3 linked regions of the Homo sapiens genome follow. The protein of the gene in region 2 purifies or fractionates together with the protein of the main gene of each other region. This does not show direct contact. Each region holds a gene or a part of one and is shown on either strand. Other genes may lie near its edges.

What was found.
Region 1: the proteins of SPX (region 2) and BTD purify together in Homo sapiens (affinity purification with mass spectrometry; one large-scale study listed by BioGRID and IntAct). This does not show direct contact.
Region 3: the proteins of SPX (region 2) and NCEH1 purify together in Homo sapiens (affinity purification with mass spectrometry; one large-scale study listed by BioGRID and IntAct). This does not show direct contact.

The regions. Positions count from the first base shown.
Region 1 is NC_000003.12:15,632,728-15,636,379, forward strand, and holds part of BTD (biotinidase isoform 1 precursor), read left to right. Parts: exon of another isoform or gene 1-139; intron 140-2,696; 5' UTR 2,697-2,712; coding exon 2,713-2,961; intron 2,962-3,652. UniProt on the Homo sapiens protein: Catalytic release of biotin from biocytin, the product of biotin-dependent carboxylases degradation.
Region 2 is NC_000012.12:21,524,659-21,528,410, reverse strand, and holds the start of SPX (spexin precursor), read right to left. Parts: upstream 2,116-3,752; 5' UTR 1,939-2,115; coding exon 1,933-1,938; intron 1,526-1,932; coding exon 1,445-1,525; intron 1,277-1,444; coding exon 1,219-1,276; intron 881-1,218; exon of another isoform or gene 685-880; coding exon 622-684; intron 460-621; exon of another isoform or gene 260-459; intron 1-259. UniProt on the Homo sapiens protein: Plays a role as a central modulator of cardiovascular and renal function and nociception. Also plays a role in energy metabolism and storage. Inhibits adrenocortical cell proliferation with minor stimulation on corticosteroid release.
Region 3 is NC_000003.12:172,701,055-172,704,706, forward strand, and holds part of NCEH1 (neutral cholesterol ester hydrolase 1), read right to left. Parts: intron 1-3,652.

The sequences.
Region 1 (3,652 bases), on a different chromosome or scaffold from region 2:
TGGAAGGCTTCTGGGGGATGCCTGGGCCCCTCCAGCCCTACCTCTAGTCCTGCCACTTTACAACTGAGCACCTCCCGCTGCTGCCTGCTGAACCCTTCAGAGTCCTTGCCACAGGCCCTATTTACTTTTTCCTGAGAAGGTATGTGTGATGCCAAAGAGAGAAAAGCAGCATTTGCTAATTTGGGTAAAATGTTTCTTTGGGAAGGGCAAATTGATGTACAGTTGTCCCTCAGTATCTGTTGGGACTGGTTCCAGGACCCCGTGGATACCGAAACCCTCAGATGCTCAAGTCCCTTATATCAAATGGTGTAGAATTTACATGTAACCTAAACACTTCCTCCTGTACACTTTAAATCATCTCTAGATCCCTTACACTACCTAATACAAACTAAATGCTATATAAATAATTGTTATACTGTATTTTTTAAATTGCTATTATTTTTTATTGTTGTGCTATTATTTTTATTGGGCTCCCTCCTCCCCCTCCCACCCCAGTAATTTCAATCCAAGGTTGGTGGAATCCATGGATGCAGAAACAATGGATACTGAGGGCCGGCTGACTAGACCTATTTTTATTGTAATTACTCATTCTCTTCTACCTCATTAAGCTTGGTTCTTTCAAGCATGAATACCTGGTTGAATCTGCATAACCTCTTATTATCGACCTACCTTTGTTCACACACAAATGATTGCCACTTAGAGCTCTCCTACCGGGCTCCTTTTGTAAAATAAATTTTATCTTCTCCAGATAGAAAGAAATGTGATACCTTGCGGATTTTGCGGTTTCCTTGTTTTGCTGGATTGCAAGTCCTTTAGACATAAACAAATGTTCTGTACCCCGACATCGGTGGTACCCAGCTCTCAGTTGAGAAAGAGATGTAATGTGAATGCCACTCTTGGCCCCAGGCACTCCTCACTTGCCCCCACTGGGGACTGGTTCATACCCTCCTCTCCTGGCCTCAGTTTCCATACCTCTTAGTGAGGCCTTTGCGTTATACTTCAGAAATATTGTCAGTATGACTTTGAAGATGAAAGTTTGCCCCCAAAATCACTCTCTGTTATCATTGTGAAACCAGAGATGGAATGGAAAAATGGGTTTCTGAGACATTTTAAATTATTCCTTGCTTGTCTTTAGAGGCAAAATTCAGATAAGAAAGCTTATCAATTATACTTTTGTTTCTACTCAAAAACTCATGACTGCTCACTCAAAGACTCCTTGTTCTTATCTTAAAACATTGTTTACAGTGTCCCAGATGAATGGCAACAAATCCTGGGGTTTGGTGTTTGGATGGTACATTTCCCTGGGGAAAGAAATAACAGTTTGAGATGGAACCGGGTTGGGGTGGGAGAATACTTCTCATTCTGAGGAATATTTAATTTTGCCAAGATGAGCATTTCTAGTTCTTAGTCTGTTGACGAAAAGAGCTATGGTTTGTTTCTGGAACTTTTGATAAAAAATAAAGAAATTTGTAGCCTGGGGAGTTTGGTTTTAAAATGCAAACACAGGAGTTATGAGTTGAGACTTGGACAGGGTGTCATTTTCTTTTTAAAGGGCAGCAATATGATTCTTTGATTTGTCTTTGTTATCTTGACTTTTAATCCGGATTCCTGGGCAGTTGTTCAGCCCCAGGACATCTCCATGGGCAGGTGGCCTGGCCTTGGCACACTACCCAGTAAATCTCTGCCTGAGAGGACGCTTTAGCTGGGAGGCCAGGCTGATTTTTAAAGGCAGAATTGGACTATTTACTCTAAAACAGTAATGCACACTGTTTAGAAAGAAACATTCCTATTCTGGGAGGAAGGAGGAGACACACAGAAGTATCATTTATTTCTAGTCTTTTCTGGTAGAAGCTATGAAGCTGAGTTTACTCTCTGGAAATTTGTAGTTTATTTTCTAGAAAATTGCATTTTATCACTGCAAAAAGGATTTTATTTCCAAATGAGTAGGCTTTTGAGCAAGAGTTTTGGAGTCACAGAGATGGGGTTAAGAAAGTGATAATGTGCAATGGCGATTCTCAAGTTCAAGGAGAAAAAATAACATGCTTTTATTGGGATACTTTGCTTGTCTATAAAAGAAAGTAGCTATTGGCATTTATGTAGAAGTCAGCAGTTTCTTGGCACCAAATAAATAATTTTGTGCTGAATAAAGGGAGAGTTATCCATAGTATTTATTACTAACCAAAGAAATGCAGGGAGAATTGTAATTCATTAGGTTTTGATGGCCAGGAAAGCCAAGCTGTGTTATTAGGGTCATGACAATCACAGACATTACGGATGGCTGACCTGTAGTATGGATAGAGGGCAGAGGGTAGAGTGTGAAATATATCACAGAATTATGTCAAATAATCTGGATAGTTACTACTGCTTAAAATCTAAGTGCACAGCTAGAAAAGTGGGTAGTGACGCACTACAGTCTTGCTGAACACTGGGTAAGAAAATCATAGCAAACGTTGAGTCTGTTTTGGAAATGTTCTAAAACCAGACTATTAACACAGTGAGCCATTTTAAATGTGGCTTGCTACGTGTTTGGAGAGAAACACATACTCTTTTATTAGGAACATGAAACAAACTCTTTGAGCCGCAGTATCACTGCGAGTGAGTTTAATTGCTGGGATTAATAAATCACAGCTGCAAACGTTAAATTCTTGGCAGGATTCTTTATTCAGCTGTTTTCCCCTTGCCCCATTACATTCCAGATTTGTGGTCTGCATTATGTCTGGAGCCAGAAGTAAGCTTGCTCTTTTCCTCTGCGGCTGTTACGTGGTTGCCCTGGGAGCCCACACCGGGGAGGAGAGCGTGGCTGACCATCACGAGGCTGAATATTATGTGGCTGCCGTGTATGAGCATCCATCCATCCTGAGTCTGAACCCTCTGGCTCTCATCAGCCGCCAAGAGGCCTTGGAGCTCATGAACCAGAACCTTGACATCTATGAACAGCAAGTGATGACTGCAGCCCAAAAGGCAAGAATGCTCCTCGGAACCTGAGTTTCTCTCATACAGAGCAGATTGCTCTTTACCCCTTGATCAGTGGTTGGGTAATCCCAGGCTTCCTACCACCCTCTGAAAAAGCATCCAGGTAGTTAACCTGAGTTGAGTTAGTCAGTTGAATTAGGAGCCTTACCCCTCAGAGAGTGGTCCGTGGACCGGCATCCCCTGGGAGCTTGTTAGAAATACAAAATCTTGGGCGGCACCCCAGACCTACTGAATCAGAATGTGCATTGCAGCAGGATCCCCAGGTGATGCTTTCACATGGCAAGTATGAGAAGCCCAGGACTAGATCCCCAGTTCTCAAGTGTGGTTGTACATAAGAATCACGAGGTAAGTGGTAAACACTATGGCTGCCCGGGTCCTGGAGAGTCCGTTGTAATTGGTGTGGAAGGGGTGTGGACTGGCACTGGGATTGTTTTAAGGCTCCCCAGTGCAGTCTAATGTGCAGAAAAATTTGAAGATGACTGGGCGTGATGACCTCTCTGAGTCATTCGAAGCTTCACTGAAGTAGTAAGCATCTGCAAGAATGCCGTTTGCTCCCTTCAGACTGTTTGAGGCTCGTTTCCGGTCTCTATGTCGGACTACGATCAGTCTGAGACCTTCGCCCAGATAGAACTGACCCCAAACTGACAAAGGGAAGGTCAGTGCCAGCCTTTGTGAAGGC
Region 2 (3,752 bases):
TGTTAATACAATACGATGGAAAGGTTTATCATGAAAAAGAACAGTCCCCGGTCCCATCCTTAACTGCCCGCATGTTACTCTTTTGATTTTGAACCTTTGATAGTTCTTTCTAGTCAAACAAAAGCATACATTTGAAGTTCCTAGGTAAGTTCTTATTTTAATAATAACAGCGTTTAAGAGGAGGCTGAGTAAAGTTCCTGCACAAACGCGCAGATACATTTCTAGAAGCATTTGCATAGTTCTTCCTATCTCGCCTTACCCCTCTGAGCTGCACCTCAGGTCCTAACTCCCTGGGGACCTCTGCACACCCTGGCAGCCAGAGGGCTGGCTGAACAGCCGCAAGCCAATAAGGCTTGGGGAGCCGCAGCGCCAGCCTGGGCCGCCCTTGCCACCATTGGCGCGGGGCTGGACGCGCGAGCTCCCAGCTCCGGCGCTCGGCATCCAGCTGCTGCTGCTGCCAACCCGGGCTGCCCTCGGGCGGACTGTATCTGAGGGCGCCTCAGAGCCGCGTCTTTCCGGTGAGGAGACGCTTTCTTTCGGCACCAGCGCGGAGCAAGCCCTGCCCGCCCCATCCTATTCCAAAAGCGCAGGACTAGCGCCCTTGCACCCTTGGTCACTCACCCGGCAGTGGCCGGTCGGAGAGGTCCTTTCTCCGGCTCTGGTCGGAGATGAAGCGGCGACCCTCTGCAAAAACGAGACCTGGGGCTCAGCGACAGCCTGGCCCGGGACAACCCGGGCTTAAACCTCAGCTCCTCCCGGCACAGCGCAGTCCCCGGGCGTGGGGAGGGGGCAGGTTGCTCCAGGATAGGGTCGCGCGGGGCTGCCGAGTTTCCAGCGCTCCCAGCGCAACCCCGGGCTGAGCCAGGGGCCCTGGAGCTCTGGAGGAAAGCCCCGCGCCTGACCGGACGCCGCAAGGGCGCTTTGGAGCGGAGGTCGGGTTACTGAGATATTTCCCAGGCAACCCGAGTCCCCATTTGGACCAAGAGAAGCAACCCTCCAGTTTTGGATGGAGAATTTCTAATAAGGATGGAGGATTTCCAATAATCAGGGACTCTTCCCCTCTCCCACCCCTCCCTCACCTACCGGTCTCTTTGATGGCCTCGATGATTTAAGGGAATAAACTCGACATTATTCTCTCTCCATAACTCTCCATCTATCTGTTCCTGACTCCTAGGGGTCTTCCATTATTGTAGGAAGAGCGAAATATTTGGAACTTACGTGCCCCTTTCAGGTAGAGCATAGCTTGAGGAGTCCAGTTCCTTCTCTCCAACAGTCTCTATAGCCCGGGGGAAGGGAAGAGCAGTTAATAAAACATTGCAGCTCAGTCCTCTATTACAGCAAAATAAAGGAAAAAGAAGAGAATAAAACAAGAAGGAAGAAAGAAAGAGCAGAGTGGACACACAGTGCGCATTGTTTTAAAATTTTTTATTTTGCATTTGATTACCTGCGGAGCGCAGCTGGAGTTTCCCAGGAAAACAAACACCAGGAAAAGAGCCAAGGTTGTTGCTGCCAGACTTCTGAGTCCCTATATGAAGCGATCAACCAGAAAGGGTCATTTCTGTGCCAATAGGATCTTCTGCTTCCTTCCTTGACGCCTGGACAATTATAAACCCCCTTACTTCTCGCAATATTCTGTTTTAATACTCAGTTTTCTGGAGGTGTTTCCCTTCTACCTTCTAGTTAATTCACAAAGAGTCCACTTGAAAAAACGTATTTAGAAACATATTATTTGTATTACTTCACCCAAATGAAGAATAAGTAAATACGTGAATTTTTTTCTTAGTAAAATCAAATGATTCTGTTATTCTAAAGGCGTATCGTTCAAATATCCTTTAAACTCTAAAATCCTTATTAAACATGAAATAGGTAAAATGCTATAAAACGTTTTAAAAAATAGCTAAGAAGTCTCAAGTTAATAAAGCCTTTACTTACCTTCATGTTCTGCGTCTTTTCAGAACCCTGAAATAACTATAACTTTATCTGTGAGTTTTCGACTCTTGCTCTGAAATTGGAGCTTTTAAAATCTTGGTGTTAAGGGCACCTCCCCATCTGGAGTAGAGTTTGGGAGTCCACAGGGACATCTTGTCAGTCTTCAAGCAAGATTGAGAATCTGATGACTCCTCCAGGGAGCTTCATTGCAGGAAGTAGAGGAATGATTGATGGGCAGAAATTATTTGTTTAAATACTGATTGCATCACCCAGGAGGCCTTCAGAATGTGTCAGCATCATTGGCCTTGCTTTTCCTACTAGCTGCCCAAAGTAACATGTTATTATTATTATTAATGAAAACAATCAATAGTCCAAGGCAGAATCAAAAGTAAAAGAATAAATCAGAAAACTTTTCTTGGGTAACTAGCCATCAGTCTATCACTGATGGCTAAAGATGTATGAAAAGGTTTGGGAATCTCAATGGAATTTGACATCAGTCATTCACTTAATTATCAATTCATTCTGTTGTTTAGCAAATATTTATTGAGTGCCTATGAGACACACAATCCTTGTATTTCAAGGGACACAGCCATGCACTGAAAAGACATGGTCTCTGCTTTGATCTAAGTTACCTACTAGTTAAGGTACACAGTAAACTGATGAATAGATAAATAAGACACAGTAGTTACCCCTTAATCGTAGGTGTGTGTGGGGTGGAGGAGCATGTTTCAAGACCCACAGTGGATGCCTGAAACCACTGATACGTATATGCCTTATTATACTATTTTTTTTTATCTGTTCACCAAGATGGTTACTAACTGATTAATGGGAGAGTGGTGTTTACATATGGACATGCTGGACAAAAAGATGGTTCATGTCTTGGGTGGGCTGGAGCTGGACAGTGAGAGATTTCAACACCCTACTCAGATTTAAAGCTCACAATTTAAACTTATTAATTCTGGAATTTCCCATTTAATATTTTCAGACTGTAGTTGACCATGGGTAACTGAAACCATGGAAAGTGAAACCGTGGATAAGCAGGGACTACTGTAACTACAGAATGTTTTAAATTGTTAAGTAAAAGTAAGCAAGGTGATGTGATAGGATAAGTGGTGGGCTACTTTAGGGAAGGTTAAAAACAGAGGGTAGTCTTGAAGGATAAGGTGAAGTAATGGGAGAAGCTGGGCAGGAATTAGTATTCCAGGCATTCTCAATAGAAGAAAGAAAAGCAAAATCTGTGGACAGCAAAGAGCATGACTTGCTTGGGGACTAGGAAAGAGGCCAATGGAGGCAGCGTTGTGTGGGTGAACGGGGGAGGTGCTTTGAAATGAGATTGGAGAAGAAGAAATGGGCCAGTTGATGTGGAAATACGATTATAAGCAATAGATGATGATGGCTTACACTGGGATGGTACACACAGGGAAAGAAGAGCTGTAAATGAATTTGGAATACATGTTGTGGAGGTAGAAAATATAGAACTTGTATATAAAAGGGATATGAAAGTGTGAGAAAAATAAATCAAGGATGATTCTTAGGTTTATGGATAAAACTGTGGGTAAATTATGAAGTAATTTACTGAAATTAGAGAAACTTCTTAAGAAGCAAGTTATGAGAGGGAAATTAACACTTGCCATATAGGCATATTAAAATTAAAATGTATATTAAAAATATCCAAGTACAAGTACAAAATAGAAGGTTAGAAATGCAAAACTTGATAGAGGTCAGCCAAGAGGTCACCAGCCTACAGATTTTCTTTTTGGTGGGGGGCAGAAATGATTAGCTTTAAGAATTTTAAGAATTCTAAGAATTTTACAACCAGTAAA
Region 3 (3,652 bases), on a different chromosome or scaffold from region 2:
CAAACACATTCATTTCAACTACTTCTGCCACTATCCATTTGCTGACTACTCCCAAATCCATATCACCAGCCCAGCTCTGTCTCCTGAGCTCTGGATCTGTATATGCAGCTGTTTATGATCAGCCATCCTTGGACTAGTCCACTGACACTTCAAAACAGGGTCCCAAACTCTATATCTTCACCCTCAGATCTGCTCTTGCTCCCAAATCAGGGTCATGGTCCCCATTCACCCAGCTATTCCAGAATCTGTCCCAGGAGTCATCTTTGACTCCTTCCTCTCCGATGCTCCATACTCTCCCCTCCAACAGCAACTCTGATCAGCTTTCCTCCAAATCAGTCCCACTTTGTTAGTTCATGCTCTCACCTGGATTAGTGCTTCCTAGATGGTCTTTTGCCTTTTTTTTTTTTTTTTTAAAGACGGAGTCTCCCTCTATTGCCCAGGCTGGAGTGCAGTGGTGCAATCTTGGCTGACTGCAACCTCCACCTCCCAGATTCAAGGGATTCTCCTGCCTCAGCCTCCCGAGTAGCTGGGACTACAGACGCGTGCCACCATGCCCAGCTAGTTTTTTTTTTTTTTTTTTTTTGTATTTTTAGTAGAGACTGGGTTTCACCATACCGGCCAGGCTGGTCTCAAACTCGTGACCTTGTGATCCGCCTGCCTCAGCCTCCCAAAGTGCTGGGATTACAGTTGTAAGCGACCACGCCTGGCCTACTTTTGCTTTCTTACATTCCAGTGTCTACACTGCCACTGAGAAGGACTATTCTAAAACACAGTTTTGAGCATGTGACTTCTCTGCTAGAAGACTGTCAGTTGCTCCTTTCTCCTCCACAGAGCTCTTCCTCACCTGACTGGTGCTTCCCTTCTGCCTCCCTCTCTGACCTTTGAACTTTAAGCTCCAGCCAGTCTAAACCACTTGTAGTTCCTCAGCTACACCATCCTCTCCCACAGAACTTTCACATACTGCTGCTTCTGGCTGGAATGCCCCTTTCACCCTTCTCTTCTCTGGTTTCTATTATAAGGAAATCTAGCACAAATCTAAACTCTTGAGTTCAGGAGTAACACAGGCTGGAATCGAATTCAGGCTCCACCTCGTATAAACGGTGTCATCTTAAGCAAGTCACTTTTCTTTGCATTTCGGTCTCCTCCTTTGTCACATAAAGAACACCTGCCTGATTGTATTACCATGGGCTAAACTAATTGAACACAAAGCACATAGCACAGTATCTGCCACAGAGTAAATGCTCACTATATGCTCAATAGATATTTTTACTATAGGCACTCAACCTTGACATCTCAGATTAGATACGTTTCCCCAGTGCCCAGGTCCACTTTAGATGTTCTTTCCAAGGCTCTTGCAGCAATCCACAGATGCCTCTATCATAATTCTCCTTCCATCATTCAAGTGCCCACCTTATCGCTGGCAGTTGGTTTATCATCCCTCACTTGACTGTAAGCTTCTCAAGATTAGGTATCTGCCTTACACATTTCTGTTTTGCCAGACCAGCTCCTTAATATTTAATATGTGATGACGTCCAGGGTTTTAATTTTATTAAACACTGAAAGAGAGCTTGTTAAAATTTCACAATATGACACACCTTAGATTAGGCAGGCGATATAGTCAGGTTTTTCACTTGAAAATTCAATTACAGGTAGGCACGGTGGCTTATGCCTGTGATCCCAGCACTTTGGGAAGCCAAAGCAAGAGGATCACTTGAGCCCAGGAGTTTGAGACCAGCCTGGGCAACATAGCAAGACTTTGTCTCTCCTAAAAAATAAAAAAAGAAAAATATAGCCAGGCATGGTGGCACGCGCCTGTAGTCCCAGCTACTCAAAAGGCTGAGGCAGGAGGATCCCTTGAGCCCAGAAGTTCAAGGTTGCAGTGAGCTGTGATCACACCACTGCATCCCTGCCTGGGTGACAGAGCAAGACCTTGTCTGTAAGAAAAAAATAAAAAGTAAAAAACGAAAATAAATTCAATTACATTTCTTCATTCTATATAAACATAAAATGAAAGAGAAGTGGTAGACAGTTCCCACATAATTTCATTTGGCAGCAAAAGTAAATATATGGTGCTCACTTCAGCAGCACATACACTAAAACCATAACAGTTCAGAGAGGACTAGCATGCCCCTGCAGAAGGATGACACACATTTGCAGTGTTACATATTTTCTTTAGAAAAGTAAATATGGCTGGGTGCAGTGGCTCACCCCTGTAATCCCAGCACTTTAGAAGGCCAAGGCGGGTGGATAACCTGAGGTCAGGAGTTTGAGACCAGCCTGGCCAACATGGTGAAACCCCATCCCTACAAAAATACAAAAAAAAATTAGCCGGGCATCATGGCGGGGGCCTGTAATCCCAGCTACTCGGGAGGCTGAGGCGGGAGAACTGCTTGAACCTGGGAGGCGGAGGTTGCAGTGAGCCGAGATCGCACCATTGCATTCCCGCCTGAGTGACAGAGCAAGACTCTGTCTCAAAAAAAAAAAAAAAAAAAGTAAATATATGCTATTTTAAAATGCTATTTTAAAAGAAGCAATTGTGCATAAAAAGAACATTTAAGAATGATTAACTGTACTTTCACACTTCACAGAAATGTCTCAGATCAAGCTCAAATTGCATGGTAGAAATAGGATGTCCCATTAAAATAATGAGGGTATTTCTATGCTCAGGGTTATATTTGTAGAAGTACCAGAAAAAATAAAAAGGAAACTATAAATTGGGCATTATCTTACACACCAGGTAGCTGAATCAATCTGACCTTAATGTTTCATAGGTACTATCTGCAGAGACCAACTCAGGTTGTTCACCTGTCAGAACTAACACTGATTAAATAATGCCCCTGACACTATTCTTAAAACCTTTTGCCTCCATATGTTTAAAGAAAAATCCTAGCAAATCAGCTAAAAATTGTGGTTAGTGAAGTTACTAATGTGCATGAAGAAATACGCATCATCATAATTTCTGGACAATCATTATTTACTGATGTTTTAAAGTTAAATTCACCTGACAATAGTAAATATTCCAGTTCAAAACTGTTATGAAAGAGATTATTAGCACGTTGAAGTTCTGCACAGTTTCCAGCTGAGCTGTCATTTAAACCACACCCACACAGCCCAAAAGCACATCATGCACAGAGAATTCAGGTGAGGTGACATTAAATCTCAACAAGTTTGGGGACATTTGGCAAGATAAAAATCCTTGATCAACTAGTCCAAAAGCACTGTCACCCATAAGAAACAGGGGGAACACTCAGCATAAATACCAATTTCAGCACTTCTTTTACATTGTGTCACTGAAAAGATTCATAGTGTAAGCAGTAGTAAGTTAGAAAATAATCAAGACAAGCCAGGCTCATGCTCCGAGCTCTCTTGGGACACCATTATTACCTTTAGCCACATTTTCCTTCCATCATTCAAGCACCTACCCTATCACTGGCAGTTGGTTTATCATCCTTCACTTGACTGTAAGCTTCTCAAGTTTAGGTTTCTGCCTTACACATTTCTGTTTTGCCAGACCAGCTCCTTGCCTTGGTGTTCATTTAATAAGTGATCACTTCCAGGGTTTTAATTTTATTAAACACTGAAAGAGAGCTTGTTAAAATTTCATAATATGACACATCTTAGATTAGGCAGGCAATATAGTCAGGTTTTTCAC